Linked DNA regions of Homo sapiens: region 1 is linked to region 2. The links come from fine-mapping of genetic effects on gene expression. A gene starts in region 2. The other region holds a variant in brackets. All regions are shown on one strand. Distances are between the middles of the regions.

What was found.
Region 1: its variant is fine-mapped to the expression of IL17RA in whole blood (INTERVAL, PIP above 0.99).

Annotation. Positions count from the first base shown.
Region 1 is chr22:17,107,889-17,116,154 of GRCh38, forward strand. IL17RA (interleukin 17 receptor A) reads left to right here. Exons shown (of 13, transcript NM_014339.7): 13 at 419-7,805. The coding sequence ends at 1,932. Among named protein-coding and RNA genes, the nearest start is that of TMEM121B, 9.3 kb to the right of the region's middle. RefSeq lists an enhancer at 1-268. The variant G/A (reference allele first, on the strand shown) is at 4,907.
Region 2 is chr22:17,081,118-17,089,421 of GRCh38, forward strand. It overlaps IL17RA (interleukin 17 receptor A), which reads left to right and starts at 3,883. Exons shown (of 13, transcript NM_014339.7): 1 at 3,883-4,112. The coding sequence starts at 3,975. RefSeq lists an enhancer at 2,943-3,112 and silencers at 3,666-3,885, 3,906-4,025, 4,276-4,375, 4,416-4,665.

The sequences.
Region 1 (8,266 bases), 27 kb after region 2:
TAGAAACCCCCTTCCAGTACCCCACTCAGAAGGGCCCCCAATAACAAGGCCTGGGTGCCATTTTTTGAATCACTCAGACAAGGAAAGAAAGGTAAGTATTTTGTGAACAGAGGTCCTCCCTGGAGCAGACCAACAGAGCTTGGTGCCTCTTTTTCTTTTCTTAATTAAAGTATAGGCTAAAGACCAGCTAGGAACGTTGAGAGATTCTTTTTCCCACAAGGCAGCAGACTGATTTTTTTCAGGCAGCCAAAGGTGGAATAGTAACATCTGGGTTTTTCCAACAGGCCTCAGTTGGGTTTCTCAGCTTAGGGAGGGAGCCAAGCTCTGTGTCCTGGTCCAGGCCCCTCCTGGGCTGGCAGGCACAGAGCTGCCCTGGGCCCTGGGGTGAGGGTCAGCATGTGTGGTCTTGTTTCCTTAGATGGCCTGCCTGCGGCTGACCTGATCCCCCCACCGCTGAAGCCCAGGAAGGTCTGGATCATCTACTCAGCCGACCACCCCCTCTACGTGGACGTGGTCCTGAAATTCGCCCAGTTCCTGCTCACCGCCTGCGGCACGGAAGTGGCCCTGGACCTGCTGGAAGAGCAGGCCATCTCGGAGGCAGGAGTCATGACCTGGGTGGGCCGTCAGAAGCAGGAGATGGTGGAGAGCAACTCTAAGATCATCGTCCTGTGCTCCCGCGGCACGCGCGCCAAGTGGCAGGCGCTCCTGGGCCGGGGGGCGCCTGTGCGGCTGCGCTGCGACCACGGAAAGCCCGTGGGGGACCTGTTCACTGCAGCCATGAACATGATCCTCCCGGACTTCAAGAGGCCAGCCTGCTTCGGCACCTACGTAGTCTGCTACTTCAGCGAGGTCAGCTGTGACGGCGACGTCCCCGACCTGTTCGGCGCGGCGCCGCGGTACCCGCTCATGGACAGGTTCGAGGAGGTGTACTTCCGCATCCAGGACCTGGAGATGTTCCAGCCGGGCCGCATGCACCGCGTAGGGGAGCTGTCGGGGGACAACTACCTGCGGAGCCCGGGCGGCAGGCAGCTCCGCGCCGCCCTGGACAGGTTCCGGGACTGGCAGGTCCGCTGTCCCGACTGGTTCGAATGTGAGAACCTCTACTCAGCAGATGACCAGGATGCCCCGTCCCTGGACGAAGAGGTGTTTGAGGAGCCACTGCTGCCTCCGGGAACCGGCATCGTGAAGCGGGCGCCCCTGGTGCGCGAGCCTGGCTCCCAGGCCTGCCTGGCCATAGACCCGCTGGTCGGGGAGGAAGGAGGAGCAGCAGTGGCAAAGCTGGAACCTCACCTGCAGCCCCGGGGTCAGCCAGCGCCGCAGCCCCTCCACACCCTGGTGCTCGCCGCAGAGGAGGGGGCCCTGGTGGCCGCGGTGGAGCCTGGGCCCCTGGCTGACGGTGCCGCAGTCCGGCTGGCACTGGCGGGGGAGGGCGAGGCCTGCCCGCTGCTGGGCAGCCCGGGCGCTGGGCGAAATAGCGTCCTCTTCCTCCCCGTGGACCCCGAGGACTCGCCCCTTGGCAGCAGCACCCCCATGGCGTCTCCTGACCTCCTTCCAGAGGACGTGAGGGAGCACCTCGAAGGCTTGATGCTCTCGCTCTTCGAGCAGAGTCTGAGCTGCCAGGCCCAGGGGGGCTGCAGTAGACCCGCCATGGTCCTCACAGACCCACACACGCCCTACGAGGAGGAGCAGCGGCAGTCAGTGCAGTCTGACCAGGGCTACATCTCCAGGAGCTCCCCGCAGCCCCCCGAGGGACTCACGGAAATGGAGGAAGAGGAGGAAGAGGAGCAGGACCCAGGGAAGCCGGCCCTGCCACTCTCTCCCGAGGACCTGGAGAGCCTGAGGAGCCTCCAGCGGCAGCTGCTTTTCCGCCAGCTGCAGAAGAACTCGGGCTGGGACACGATGGGGTCAGAGTCAGAGGGGCCCAGTGCATGAGGGCGGCTCCCCAGGGACCGCCCAGATCCCAGCTTTGAGAGAGGAGTGTGTGTGCACGTATTCATCTGTGTGTACATGTCTGCATGTGTATATGTTCGTGTGTGAAATGTAGGCTTTAAAATGTAAATGTCTGGATTTTAATCCCAGGCATCCCTCCTAACTTTTCTTTGTGCAGCGGTCTGGTTATCGTCTATCCCCAGGGGAATCCACACAGCCCGCTCCCAGGAGCTAATGGTAGAGCGTCCTTGAGGCTCCATTATTCGTTCATTCAGCATTTATTGTGCACCTACTATGTGGCGGGCATTTGGGATACCAAGATAAATTGCATGCGGCATGGCCCCAGCCATGAAGGAACTTAACCGCTAGTGCCGAGGACACGTTAAACGAACAGGATGGGCCGGGCACGGTGGCTCACGCCTGTAATCCCAGCACACTGGGAGGCCGAGGCAGGTGGATCACTCTGAGGTCAGGAGTTTGAGCCAGCCTGGCCAACATGGTGAAACCCCATCTCCACTAAAAATAGAAAAATTAGCCGGGCATGGTGACACATGCCTGTAGTCCTAGCTACTTGGGAGGCTGAGGCAGGAGAATTGCTTGAATCTGGGAGGCAGAGGTTGCAGTGAGCCGAGATTGTGCCATTGCACTGCAGCCTGGATGACAGAGCGAGACTCTATCTCAAAAAAAAAAAAAAAAAAAGATGGTCACGCGGGATGTAAACGCTGAATGGGCCAGGTGCAGTGGCTCATGCTTGTAATCCCAGCACTTTGGGAAGGCGAGGCAGGTGGATTGCTTGAGCTCAGGAGTTCAAGACCAGCCTGGGCGACATAGTGAGACCTCATCTCTACCTAAATTTTTTTTTAGTCAGTCATGGTGGCACATGCCTGTAGTCCCAGCTACTCGGGAGGCTGATGCCAGATGATCACTTGAGCCCAGGAGGTAGAGGCTGCAGTGAGCTATAATGGTACCATTGCAATCCAGCCTGGGCAGCAGAGTGAGACCCTGTCTCAAAAAAAATAAAAAAGTAGAAAGATGGAGTGGAAGCCTGCCCAGGGTTGTGAGCATGCACGGGAAAGGCACCCAGGTCAGGGGGGATCCCCGAGGAGATGCCTGAGCTGAAGGATTGTGGTTGGGGAAAGCGTAGTCCCAGCAAGGAAGCAGTTTGTGGGTAAGTGCTGGGAGGTGAGTGGAGTGAGCTTGTCAGGGAGCTGCTGGTGGAGCCTGGAGGGGAAGGAGGGAGGCAGTGAGAGAGATCGGGGTGGGGGGTGGGGGGATGTCGCCAGAGCTCAGGGGTGGGGACAGCCTTGTGCGCATCAGTCCTGAGGCCTGGGGCACCTTTCGTCTGATGAGCCTCTGCATGGAGAGAGGCTGAGGGCTAAACACAGCTGGATGTCACCTGAGTTCATTTATAGGAAGAGAGAAATGTCGAGGTGAAACGTAAAAGCATCTGGCAGGAAGGTGAGTCTGAAGCCCTGCACCCGCGTTCCGACTATCAGTGGGGAGCTGTTAGCACGTAGGATTCTTCAGAGCAGCTGGGCTGGAGCTCCCCTGAGCTCAGGAAGCCCCAGGGTGCAAGGGCAAGGAAATGAGGGGTGGTGGGTCAGTGAAGATCTGGGCAGACCTTGTGTGGGGAAGGGGTGCTGCTGTGACTTCAGGGTCTGAGGTCCAAAGACAGCATTTGAAAAGAGGCTCTGAAGCCAGTGTTTGAAGAATTTGTTCCTGAAGTACCTCCTGGGGGTAGGCTAGAGGCTTCTGGCTTCAGGGTCCTGAAGAACACATTGAGGTGCCGTCTGACACTGGAATAGGGTGCCCTTCATTCCTATGCCTGAGTCCTTAACTATATTTCCAACCTCCAGTGAGGAGGAGAAGATTCGGAAATGTGACAGGAGAGCAAACAGGACAGTTTGCATGTGTGTGTGCGCACACATACATGTGCGTGAAAGATTATCAATAAAAGTGCATAAATTTGTTGATCTGGTAAGAGTTTCTAGCAGGAAGGTCGAGCCACTTACTGTAGGTCAAGAAGTTGCTAGTTGCGGAGTTTTTTCTTGCAGTTAGACTTTACCTAGTGGTAGCAGGGCCACCAAAGCTCTGTGTCCCAGATGGTGTATGGCCCATAATCCACCCAACAGCAGCAAAGGACCAGGCAAAGGAGAACAGGAGCAGAAGCCTCCCAGCCACTAGCCTTTTGGGCTCAGTCTCTCCAATAATCCTGGAGAGGGGCTTCGTTGGGTCTGGACACCTACCATGCATTCTGTGACCTTTCCCTAGCTTCCAATAAATAACTGTTTGACGCCCAGAGTACAGGATACCACAATGCACTCTTCCTGCGTAGAGCACATGTTCCCATCTGCTCCCATTCCTCAGGAACCTTGAATTCTAGCTCTGCTGGCCTTTGAGCCCATGCCAGTAAATGTCCTGATGGGCATTGCCTACTATCTCCAGGGCAGCTGCCTTTGTCCTCCTAACAGCTTTATTGGAGTACAGTTCACTTACCATACAATCCACAATTGACCCTGCACAATTTGATGCCGGTTTAGTATAGTCACAGTTCAGCAGCCATCAGCACAGTCAGTCTTAGAGTTTACTACCCCCAAAAGAAATCCAGCCCCCCTTAGTCACCACCCCAACCTCCCCATCCCTAGGCACCCCTAGGCTACTTTGATCTCTGTAGACTTGCCTCTTCTGGACATGACATAGAGAAAGGAGTCATAAATTCTCCAAGGTGTCTGTTTCTTCTTTAATGTCATTCCCTGTTTCTCCTCACATTCCCTCCCCATTTCCTGGGCCCAGTCTCACACTGGTCCTTGCTTACCCTAAATGCTATTAATTCCATCACTCTGAGTATGGTGTTTGCTGTCCGCTGAATGCCAAGAGCTTCAAGAGTGTGTGTAAATAAAGCCACACCTTTATTTTTGTATTATTCTGAACCATGGCTAATAAATTGTTTCACCAAGAAATGTCTCTCTAAGAACAG[G/A]TGCCCTCCACGCTGTGCCCCTCCCACCTCTTCAGCTCGTCTCCTGAGTGTGCAGAGGTGGTTCCGGTTGGGAAAGAAGCAGCGGAGCATCTAACCATGCCTGTGTCCAGGCCGATTATGCACGCAGCCACCAACAAGCTCCCAACTCCCGCGTAGAGTTTCATGACTTTTTCCTGCCTACTATCTTGATCCTAGTTTTTTTTTTGTTTTTTTTTTTTTTAAGGAATAATTACTTTGATTCAAAACCAGTTTCTCTTTTCTGCATAGGAAGGTCCTTGAAGGTGTTTAGGGTCTAAAAAGGGTGGTGTTCGGTCTCTGAAACATCCATTCAGCAGTTTGAGCTGGGATCTCTGAATGCAAGGGTATGATGGATATACTTCTTTCTTGCTTTTGTTGTGTTTTGGTTTTTTGTTTGTTTTTAAGTCAGGGTCTCTCTGTCACCAGGCTGTATTACAGTGGTGCAATCATGGCTCACTGCAGCCTCGACCTCCCAGGCTCAAGCCATCTTTCCACCTCAGCCTGCCAGTGGCTAGAACTACAGGCGTGCACCACTGTGCCCGGCTAATTTGTGTGTATATATTTTGTAGAAATGGGGTTTCACCATGTTGTCCAGGCTGGTCACGAACTCCTGGGCTCAAGCCATCTGCCCGCCTCATCCTCCCAAAGTGCTGGGATTATAGGCCTGAGCCCACCGTGCCTGGCCTTTCCTGTTTATCTTTGAAAATTAAATAGGGCATAAGAGAGAAGAAGATGTACTTACAATGCAGTGGGTGGTTTTAACTCTATAGCCTTTGGGCTCTGTGGTTGGTGCTCCCCTTCCTAAATAAATGAGGTGTATGCAGGGCCCTCTTCTGCCTTAGCGCCCTGCCAGCTGGGACTCCAGCAAGGCCCGGGGCACCTGAGGACAGAGTGAGATGGAGGGCCGCTGCTCCAGCAGCCGGGCCTGCATCCCACAAGTCAACTGTGTCGGACAGAGGATCCTTACAAAGAAGAGGCAGCAGGGTTGGGGGCTGGCCAGCTGCTCGTCCGCCCTAGGTAGCTTGCTCATCTGTAAAGTGGGTGGGGCAGGAGTTCCCACCTCATGGGGTCCTGGCAAGCCTGCAGTATCCCCGAGTGGCACCAGCCTGCTTCTGGGGCAGAGCAGTTTGTGCCCCCTGAGGTACCACTGATCCTCTTTCCCTGCTATTAGGTATTGCTCTCTTCCTCCGGTGTTTGCCTTTTCAGATTATAGAAGTAATATGTGTTCCCATATTTGGCGTCTCTCAGGAGCTCAGGAAGTACTTGGCTGAGTGAACATGTCCATTGTGGAAAAATGGCAACAATATGGATTCCATGGGTATATTTTATAGAAGAATATGAAGAAAAGCAGCTACCCCTAAACCCATTGCACAAGCTGTTCATGTTAATTCTGTACCCGACGCTTTCCCCACGGGGCCTCCCCTCACTCTGAAATGGCATCCAGGTCCATCTTGCCCTCCACCTCTGCATGGCTCTCCATGCCCCATCGCCTCTCCCAGATCCTAGCACTGGGTCCACACTCTCGCCCTGTCCATTTAGGTTGATGAAAGCAGGCAGTCACCCGGGTGGGCCAGTCTTGCCTGTGGGAGGAACATGCAGTCTCCTGTCTCATGGTTTGAAGTGTGCCAGGAAGCCTGGCCCAGCCCACCTCCCCCTGGAGTCCTTCCCAGGAGGAATAACCCCTTAGGTCATTGACTATAAGATGAGTTCGCTCACTGGATCCTTCCTCTCTGATGAGACAGGAAGAAGGTACACAGTGACCAGGTAGGAGGAGGAGAGGGAGTAGAAAGGAGGGATGCGGGTGGCTGGTCCCTGCATTTGCCTGCTTCCCTGCACGGGTGTCCCACTGGCCGCCTCTGCTCACCAGTGTCATGGGATTCTCTCAGAAGATGAAAACAGCCCCTGCTTTTTTGCTAGAATGGCTGAGCTTTCATGGAAAGGAAGCTGGACCCAAGCAACAGCCGACTACCGAAGGTTGCCTGGAGCAGTGCAGATGTGGGAGGAAGAAGGGCCTTGGTGCACACTGGCTTTTCTTCCTGACTGCAATGTGGCATTGTGCCAGCTACCTCCTCTTTCTCGGCCTCAGGAAAATGGAGAGAAAGCAGCCCTGAAGGTGGCTGTGACGAGGGAAGGGGCAGAGGGCCTGACAGTCAACCACGCGCTATATTTTCCTGTTCTTCCTTAGGGCAAGAACTGCATGGCCAGACTCAGGCAAGGCCTAGGTGTGGGCTGGGCATTGCCTACACGTGAAGAGATCACTCCGCGTCCCTACTGCACCTGTCACAAAGTGCCTTCTGATATGCCTGGCAAACCAAAATCGGTGAGCGCCAGCTTGCTTCCCTAGAAGACATTTCTAAATATTCATAACATGCTTGCTCAAATCAATCACCTTATTTTACATCCGCTCCAGGGAGAAATGAAGACATGGTCCTACGTTGTTCTGTAATTATTTTCTATGTAAATTTTGTTCCTTGTTACAATTATATATGTCTTAGGGGAAAGGACCATTTCACATGTGTCACCTCATGTGATTCTCACCACAGCCCTGTGATTGCTCCTGTTTTATAAATAATGACATAGTTCCAGTTGATGGCCAAAGCCACAGCTAACGAGAGGCAGAGAGAGCTCAGGCTCCCAGGAGCTTCCACTCTCAGACCTTGCCTCCCGGGCTGCCCTGAGTGAAACGCCTGCTTAGCATTTGGCACAGCCAGAAGCAGCAAGCTAGGGTCACAACACAGAGAGGGGCTGTGTAATACTGGCTGCCTCTGTGCTAAGAAAAAAAAAAAATCACTGTGTGTTTGTTTATTTTGGTGCAGGCCCAGTGTTCTTGCTTAGACTTAATACTACCCTTCATGTTAAAATAAAACCAAACAAAAACCCATGGCCTTGTTCTTCTTATTCATACGTAAGAATTTGTGCTTCTGGCTGGGGCAAGAGTGATAGAGGAGGGCACAGTATTTAAAAATTAGTTTCTCAAGATGTTCCCCCTTTGGAAAGCTACTCTTTTAGAAAGAAATGGGAAGCCGGGCGTGGTGGCACACTTCTGTAGTCCCAGCTACTTGGGAGGCTGAGGCAGGAGGATTGTTTGAGCCCAGGAGGTTGAGGCTGCAGTGAACTATGATGGCGCCACTGCACTCCAGCCCAGGTGACAGAGTGAGACCCTGTCTCAAAAACAAAGAAAAAGAAAGAAGGAAGGAAAGAAAAGTGAGAGAGAGCCGAGGGTGATGAGAAAAAATCGTTCTCAGGCTGAGTCCATTAGAGCTGAGCTGGCTGTGCCAACAAAGCATGTCAAGACACTCACCAGCTCCAGGCCACAGCTTCACTGCCTCCCTGAAAAACATG
Region 2 (8,304 bases):
CACTGGTATTTCAAAAAGCACCTCATGGGATTCTAATACGTAGGCAGAGTTGAGAACCAGGATAGCAATTTCAAATGAGAGTACACATTACCCTGAGGTTACATGAAGACTTTCCAAGGGGCACGCCTTGGAAAGTTTAGGGCACACATCAGTAAACTAGGGCCTATGGCCCAAATCTGTTCTACTGCCTGTTTTTGTACCCTCCGGGGAGCTAAGTTGGTTTTTACAGTTTCAAATGGTCAGGGGAAAAAATCAAAAGGGAAATAATATGTTTGGACAAATGAAAATTATATGAAATTTAAATGTAAGTGTCCATAAATAAAGTTTTATTAGAACACAGACACACTCCTTTGTTTACATATTGTCAATGGCTTCTACAAGGGCAGAGTTGAATAGTTGGGACAGAACTATATGGCTGGCAAAGCCTGAAGTATTTACTATCTGATACTTTCCAGAAAAAAAAAACTTGCTGGCCCTGGCTTGAAGGGAATAGATTTGAAGGGAATGGACCTCCAGAATCTCAACATCCCCATGTCCTCTTCCAGACACTTGCCTGCCAGGAAAGGTACCAGCTGTGAAGATGTCAGGTGTGGGTGGAGGCTCCCTTCCTTCCCCACACTTTTGTTTCCTACTTGTCCTTCTCCCACTTTCAAAAGAAAGGTAGGCCTCTCATCAGTCCTGGGTATTAAGTTTCTAACATGTGAAATTTGGGGGACACATTTTAGAATGTGTAAAAAAGCCCCTGGGGGCCCAGAGCAGTGGCTCACCCCTGTAATCCCAGCACTTTAGGAGGTTGAGGAGGGCAGATCACAAGGTCAGGAGTTCGAGACCAGCCTGGCCAACATGGTGAAACCCCATCTCTACTAAACATACAAAAATTAGCTGGGCGTGGTGGCATGTGCCTGTAATCCCAGCTATTCAGGAGGCTGAGGCAGGAGAATTGCTTGAACCTGGGAGGCGGAGGTTGCCACTACACTCCAGCCTGGGCGACAGAGCAAGACTCCATCTCAGAAAAAAAATAAATAAAATAAAATAAAATTTAAAAAGCCCCTGGGCACTAGACATAGCAACAGTACCAGATACCATTGTGTAATAGGACTCTGATCACAGGATAGGTATATACACATATCGATATACAGAGATAGATAGATAGATAGATAGATAGACATCTATTTTTTTGCAAGTGAGGTAGGTTCCAAATATTGCCTTACTAAAATTGAAGGAGGACCCAATCAAGTTGTCAGTTGCCAAATCAAAAATATTTGACTGGGCACAGTGGTGCAAACCTGTAATCCCAGCTACTTGGGAGGCTGAGATGAGAGGACCTCTTGAGCCCTGGAGTTTGAGTCTAGCCTGGGCCGTTTAGTGAGACCCTATTTAAAAAAAAAAAAAGGTGACAAGATGGCTATGTGATCTTTGCATATGACTGAAAACGGGTTCAAAGAATTGATGAGACAAATATAATTATTTATGTAAGCAATTTTTTAAGGCTTACATCTAAAATATTTTTAGCCTGGGGTGGTAGCTCGTGCCTGTAATCCTAGTACTTTGGGAAGCTGAGGCAGGAGGATGACTTGAGCCCAGGAATTCAAGACCAGCCTGGGTAACATAGTGAGACCCTGTCTCAATGTTTTAAAAAGAAGAAAAATGGTGGCTCACGCCTGTAATCCTAGCACTTTGGGAGGCCGAGGCGGGCGGATCATGAGGTCAGGAGATCAAGACCATCCTGGCTAACACGGTGAAACCCCGTCTCTACTAAAAATACAAAAAATTAGCCGGGCGTGGTGGCAGGTGCCTGTAGTCCCAGCTACTCGGGAGGCTGAGGCAGGAGAATGGACTGAACCCGGGAGGCGGAGCTTGCAGTGAGCCGAGATCACGCCACTGCACTCCGGCCTGGATGACAGAGCAAGACTCCATCTCAAAAAGAAAAAAAAAAAAAGAAGAAAAATAAAATATTTCTTAAATGCTGAATGTTGCTTTGTTCTATGAATAAGCAATATTTGTTCACAGATACATCAACTAATTAGGAATAAAATGAATTTCAAGTAATTCATGTTTAATTACTTATTAACATGTATTATATTTACATTATTTTTTATCAATTATGTACTAATAATGGCAATGATGAAATGAAGATCTCAGTGTCTTGCACTGGGCAGAGGCCTTTCTCATTCTCTGCCACTTGGGCCCCAGCATGGCTTCCCTAAGAGCTAGGAGCTCAGAGGGAGGGGCTGGGCAAGACAGAAGTCAGGATCTTTTTGTAACTTAATCTTGTAAGTGACATCCCATCATTTTTGTCTTCTTCTATTCATATTCTATTGTTAGAACCAAGCCTCTGGGTCCATCCCACACTCCGCGAGGAGGATTCAGAAGGTCGTGACTCCCAGGGGGTGGGATCCTAGAACACATCTTAGAAGCTGCCTACGACAACCGCTGATTTTTAAGTAACAGTTACATCCTCTACATCTATTTAGACTTAGGATGGAGAATTTTAGATGTCATCTTTAAAATGCATGAGAGGATGCAGTTTTCCAAAATTCTTTTAGAAACAGACAATTTGAAGGCCACTGAGCTTCAGGCTTCATTCAGCTGGGTCGTGTCTGCGGGCGGGGCTCATAGAGATGTCGCTGGGGGTCAGCGGGTGCTTCGGGCAGCGAAAAAACCCACCTCTCGAGGGCAGTGGAAAATACAGGGAAAAGCCACTTGAGTGTAGACTCCGTGCGTGTCAAGGCCAGGCAGAGGCGCACTTGATAGGCAAGGAAAAGCGGACGGTGGTGGTCTTGGGAGGAAGAGAGGAGAGGCGAATGGGCAGGAGCGTGTGGATGCACTAGGGCAGGACGGGCTCGAAGCAGGAACCTAGGATAGAGGCAGCGCGGGCCGGCTTGGGAGGGTCCTCCAGGGTCCGGAGAGGAGAGGACGCAGGCTGCACGCGTGCTAAGAAGGAGACTCATGAAATGTGTAATTCGCTGGCGACAGCTTCCGCGGCCGTGGAGTGAGCCTCTGGGAAGTAACGACTCTCTTAGGTGCGGCTGGGACACAGTCTCACAGACCAGGTAAGTTGCCTGCCCTCCAGGAACTCAAGTGTCCCCGAGTCCGAGCCAGGAGGCTGGAAGTGACTGCTGTCCCATCCTCCCTGGAGCCCGGAGCTGTCCTTGTCTTGAGAAAGAGAAAGCAAAGCCAAGGAAAGCAGAGCGAGCAGAACCAGGCAAAGGGGTGGGGACAATAAAATGGGATATGGCCCGCGCTTCCATCTACTCAGGAGGCAGAGGCAGGAGGATCGCTTGAGCCCGGGAGGCCGAAGCTGCAGTGAGCTGCGGTTGCACCACTGCACTCCAGCCTGGGAGACAGAGGGAGACCCTGTCTAAAAATAAAGTAAAATAAAAAACAAAAATAAAAGGGACAGAGACTAAGAAAACGGACTTCCTGAAATCCCAAGTTGGGATTTCACGTCCAGTGACCCACAAGAGAAGCAAGAAGTCTGAACAGGGCCAAGAATCAAGTGAGTGGGGGCGGAGGATTAAAATCGACAGTTGCTGCGGCACGGCCAGGGTGGAGGGTGCATGTGGGGCAGGCGAGGCTCCAGCTGGAGTTGACGCTAGCCCGACGCGGGTGCAACTGGAGGCGCGACGGGCCAGGCCCAGGAGCAGCGGGAGGAGCGCACCTGGGGCGCGCGGGCGGAGGAGGGCCGGGGAGGGACGCCGGAAGGACTGGGTAGGGACGCCCGGAGGACTGAGCGTAGGGCCGAGAGGAGGGGCGCAAGGAGGAACGGGGGGAGGGCCCTGTCTCACCCTAAACCCCTCCCCGTCCCAGACTAAACTCCTCCCCTCGGCCCGGCCCGCCCCTGGGCCCGGGCTGGAAGCCGGAAGCGAGCAAAGTGGAGCCGACTCGAACTCCACCGCGGAAAAGAAAGCCTCAGAACGTTCGTTCGCTGCGTCCCCAGCCGGGGCCGAGCCCTCCGCGACGCCAGCCGGGCCATGGGGGCCGCACGCAGCCCGCCGTCCGCTGTCCCGGGGCCCCTGCTGGGGCTGCTCCTGCTGCTCCTGGGCGTGCTGGCCCCGGGTGGCGCCTCCCTGCGACTCCTGGACCACCGGGCGCTGGTCTGCTCCCAGCCGGTGAGACTCGACGTGGGGAGCGGTAGCCGCCAGGATGCTGCGGACGCGGGGCAAGGTCGCGGAGGGCCGGACGGTCGGGACTACGCGCCCGGGCTGGGGAGGCAGGAAGTCCGCGCCGCGGGCTTAGAGGGGCTCAGAGCCTTGGGCACAGATATCGCGGCGCCTGGGGAGGACCCTCGGAGCGGTGGGAGTTGCGGTGTGGAATACGGGGGGGGTGGGTGGCACATCGCGCGGCGCGTGTTGCACAACCTGGCCCGCCGTCGTGACTGGAGGCGGGAGTGACACCTCCGCCCGGGCCGCGGAGTTCGGGGAAGGAGGGCGCGGCGCTGGGCCAGGCCGGAGGGGCGGCCAGGGCTGATAGAAAGGGGCTGTGGAGAAGGGGCCCGGGGAGGAGCCAGGACGGGTCTGGACCCAGCTCCACGCCTTGCGCCCCTCACGTACCCCGGCGGGGCACGGTCGGCCCTCGGGAGGCCCATCGCGCCCTCGGGAGCTTCCCTCAAGCCGTGCCCTTCATGCCGCCGACGGAGCCGGGCGAGCCCACGTCGTCCGTGCGGAAGGTGGAGTCCCTCACCCGCGGCCCCCAGAGGGACCCCGCTGTCGTAGAGCCACGCGGGGGCCGGAGCGCTGAGACGCGGCACCATGTTTCGGGGAGAGCTCTGCCGAGGGCGGCTGAGGGCCACCTCCCCAGAGGCGCGAAGCCCTGAGGATGGGCAGATGGTTCTTAAGACGGCGCCCTTCCCGCCACTCCCACCCCCGACTACCACCACCTGGGTCTGGGAACCCGGTGAGAGCGCAGTCGGAGGGTCGAACGTTTGTAGCTGTCAAGTCGTAGCCCCGCTGCGCCCACAGGAAGTGACCCACCCGCCTGCCGGGTAGTGGCCTTTCTGTGAGCCAGGACCATCTTAAGGAAAAAAACAAAAAAAGAGCAAAACGCCGTGCCCCTCCACAATATACTCTCCTCTTCCCCGCATCCCCGAGGGGATCTTTCCTCCCCTCCACCTCCACCTCCACCTCCACCGCTGACCCCAAGGAATAATGCTCAGTATCTGAGTCAGAGGATGTAAAACAAAGGGATATTTCTCCTTATGTAGTTTTATGGAGGATTTACCGAAAGAAGGTGGAGGGTGAGTGACTATGTCGCAGAAAAAAAAAAAAAGATGTTTTTATCGTGAATGATGTTGAGAAATGTCCTGTGACTTCCACTATTGGGCAAAGCAGGTCCCTCTGCCCTGCTAGTCCCTCCTGCAGGCTGTGTATGAAGCGTTCTGATATGGAGGGTTGGTGCGCCTGGGTTGACAGCCATTGGTCAGGTGCCTGCAGAGTACAGGGCGCCATACTGGGAACTGGAACTATAAATAAATACTCTGGGGACCCTAATATCCAGAGACCTAACCCATCTACGGGAGGAACAAGGCTTGAAGTTAGGGAACTGTCTAGCAAAGCTGCTTGCACAACTGCTAAGTGTACGGAATTCCAGGAAAAAGAAAAATTGCTTCCAGTTGGGGTGTCCTTCATGGAAAAGGCATTTGGGCAGCCCTGTGGGGGTAGCAGGAGCATTCCAGGTGGTGGAAAGGGCCTGAGCCAAGGTCCTTAAGTGGGACAGGGTACGGTGTGTGGCCGGAATGGAGGGTCTGTGTAATAGGACAGTGAGAAAAGATGCCAGAAGCGGGGATGGGACTCTGCTGTGCGTGGCGTGGGAGCCAAGCTCTGACTTTCACTGCACAGTGAAGCAACTGTAAGTCAGGAGCAGAAGCACGGCCTGGCTCCAGGGAGGGCTGAAGAGAGACACTTGCTGTTCATATTTGTCTGCAGTCTCTCGTTCTCTTCCTTCCTCTCTCTCTCTTCTGTATACACCTGCCTCACAGACAGCTCTTCTCCAGAGATAGACAGCTCTGGGCTCCATTGACTAGTTCTTTTAAAAAGAAAGAAAACACATCCTTCAAATTTCTGTCCCTCACTGGTGTTTTAGTGGATGCAATGTGGTATAGTGAGGGGAGGGAAGGCCACAGAGGTGGCCAGAGGACCTGGATTTGCAGGCAGCATCGCACTTACTGTCTCTGCAGTCGGGCTTTGAGGCTGCCTGGGCCTGGGTTCCCTCATTTCCACAAAGGCAGGACTGGGTGAGCCTTCTCAAAGTAAGTCCATGCCACCTTCCAGAATGTAAGTGTCTGTCCAAAGCCCAGTTCGATTTAGCCTTCCATAACTATCCTCAGACAGGGAGGAGGCTTCTGCACACCTGGCCTGTTCCTAGCTCAGTGCTGGAGCACAGGATGCGGGGGCTATTTGATACATATGTGTTGACTGAACAAAAGAATGCATGAATGAAGGAAAGAACGGTCAGCTCTGCTTGGAAGGTAGTGGCAAGCTGAGACCAACCATAGCAATGGTTCCAGATGCTTGGGGTTAGCACCTCAAAACCCAGATGACTGATTTCCCCACAGAAATCATTACACGAGAAACCATCAATAATTGCATTTCCCTGGGAGTTTCCTTTTGGTTAGCCGTTCTCGCTGCCTAGGCTTCATGCAGGTTTCCCATGACCGCCAGCCTGGAGGAATGCCCATAGGAAAGACAGCAGCAACTTAAGAGTTGGTCAGGGTAAATGTTAACACGTAATTTCATAGACAGGATGTGTATTTCATTACAGAGTCTTTTTTCCTGAGCGTTTGCGGTTTTGACTTGTGGTTGTAGAACAGCTGCTCAGTTTAACCCCTTTATCTTTTGCTTGCCAGAAGCCACTTTCATCATGCCACTCTTCCAGAGGCTACAAAGTTGTGTTCTTTGTGCCAGGCACTGTGCCGGTGGCTCACAAGTATTCCTTCATCCCATACTCAACGACAGCTTACAAGGTTGGCAGGATGAACCTGCTTTTGAGAGGCTGGGTTATTGGCCCAAGGTCGCACAGCTAATGAGTGCTAAGGTGAGATTGAAAGCAGGCTGTGCTTGTAAGTTCAAAGCCCACTTTCTCTGTCAGGCACTCAGTAGTGTTCACTGAGGCACAGAATTGAATACAATCTTCCATTTCTTCCTCTTAACCTTCACCTTGTGGGTAGAGAATAGTGGCCTATTGGAGGTATCCCTTATTTATTTATTTATTTATTTATATTTTGAGAGAGTTTTGCTCTGTCGCCCAGGCTGGAGTGCAGTGGTGCGATCTCAGCTCACTGCAACCTCCGCCTCCCGAGTTCAAGCAATTCTTGTGCCTCAGCCTCCCGAGTCATTGGGATTACAGGCGCCCACCACTACACCCAGCCGATTTTTGTTTTTTGTTTTTTTGACACAGAAAGACACTGTCGCCCAGGCTACAGTGCAGTGGCATGATCTCGGCTCACTGCAACATCCACCTCCCAGGTTTGAGCGATTCTTCTGCCTCAGCCTCCCAAGTAGCTGGGACTAGCAGGCATGCACCATGATGCCCAGCTAATTTTTGTTATTTTTAGTAGAGATGGGGTTTCACCATATTGGCCAGGCTGATCTGGAACTCCTGACCTCAAGTGTTCTGCCCACCTCGGCCTCCCAAAGTGCTGGGATTACAGGTGTGAGCCACCGCACCTGGCCAATTTTTTTATTTTTATTTTTATTTTGAGACAAGGTCTCACTCTGTCATCCAGATTGGAGTGCAGTGGTGCGATCTCAGCTCACTGCAACCTCCACTTCCCAGGCTCAAGCGATTCTCCTGCCTCAACCTCCCAAGTAGCTGGGATTACAGGTGCGCACCACCACTCCCAGCTAATTTTTGTATTTTTAGTAGAGTCGGGGTTTCACCATGTTGGCCAGGCTGGTCTCGAATTCCTGACTTCAAATGATCTACCTGCCTCGGCCTCCCAAAATGCTGGGATTACAAGCGTGAGCCAATGCGCCTGGCCAATTTTTTAATTTTTTTAGTAGAGACAGGGTTTCACCAGGTTGGCCAGACTGGTCTCGAACTCTTTATCTGCCCACCTCGGCCTCCAAAAATGTTGGGATTACAGGTGTGAGCAACCACACCTGGCCCCTTTTGTTATTTAGAGAGACAAGGCAGCAGAGATTAAGATCATGTATTCTGGAGCAAAACTTCGTCATGCAAATGCCAGCTCTGTGGGACCTTGAGCCACTTACCCAACCTCCCTGGGTCTTAGTTTTTTCATCAGTACAATTGGGATAAGGGTGCTTAGCTCATAGGATTGTTGTCAAGATCAAATGAGATATATGT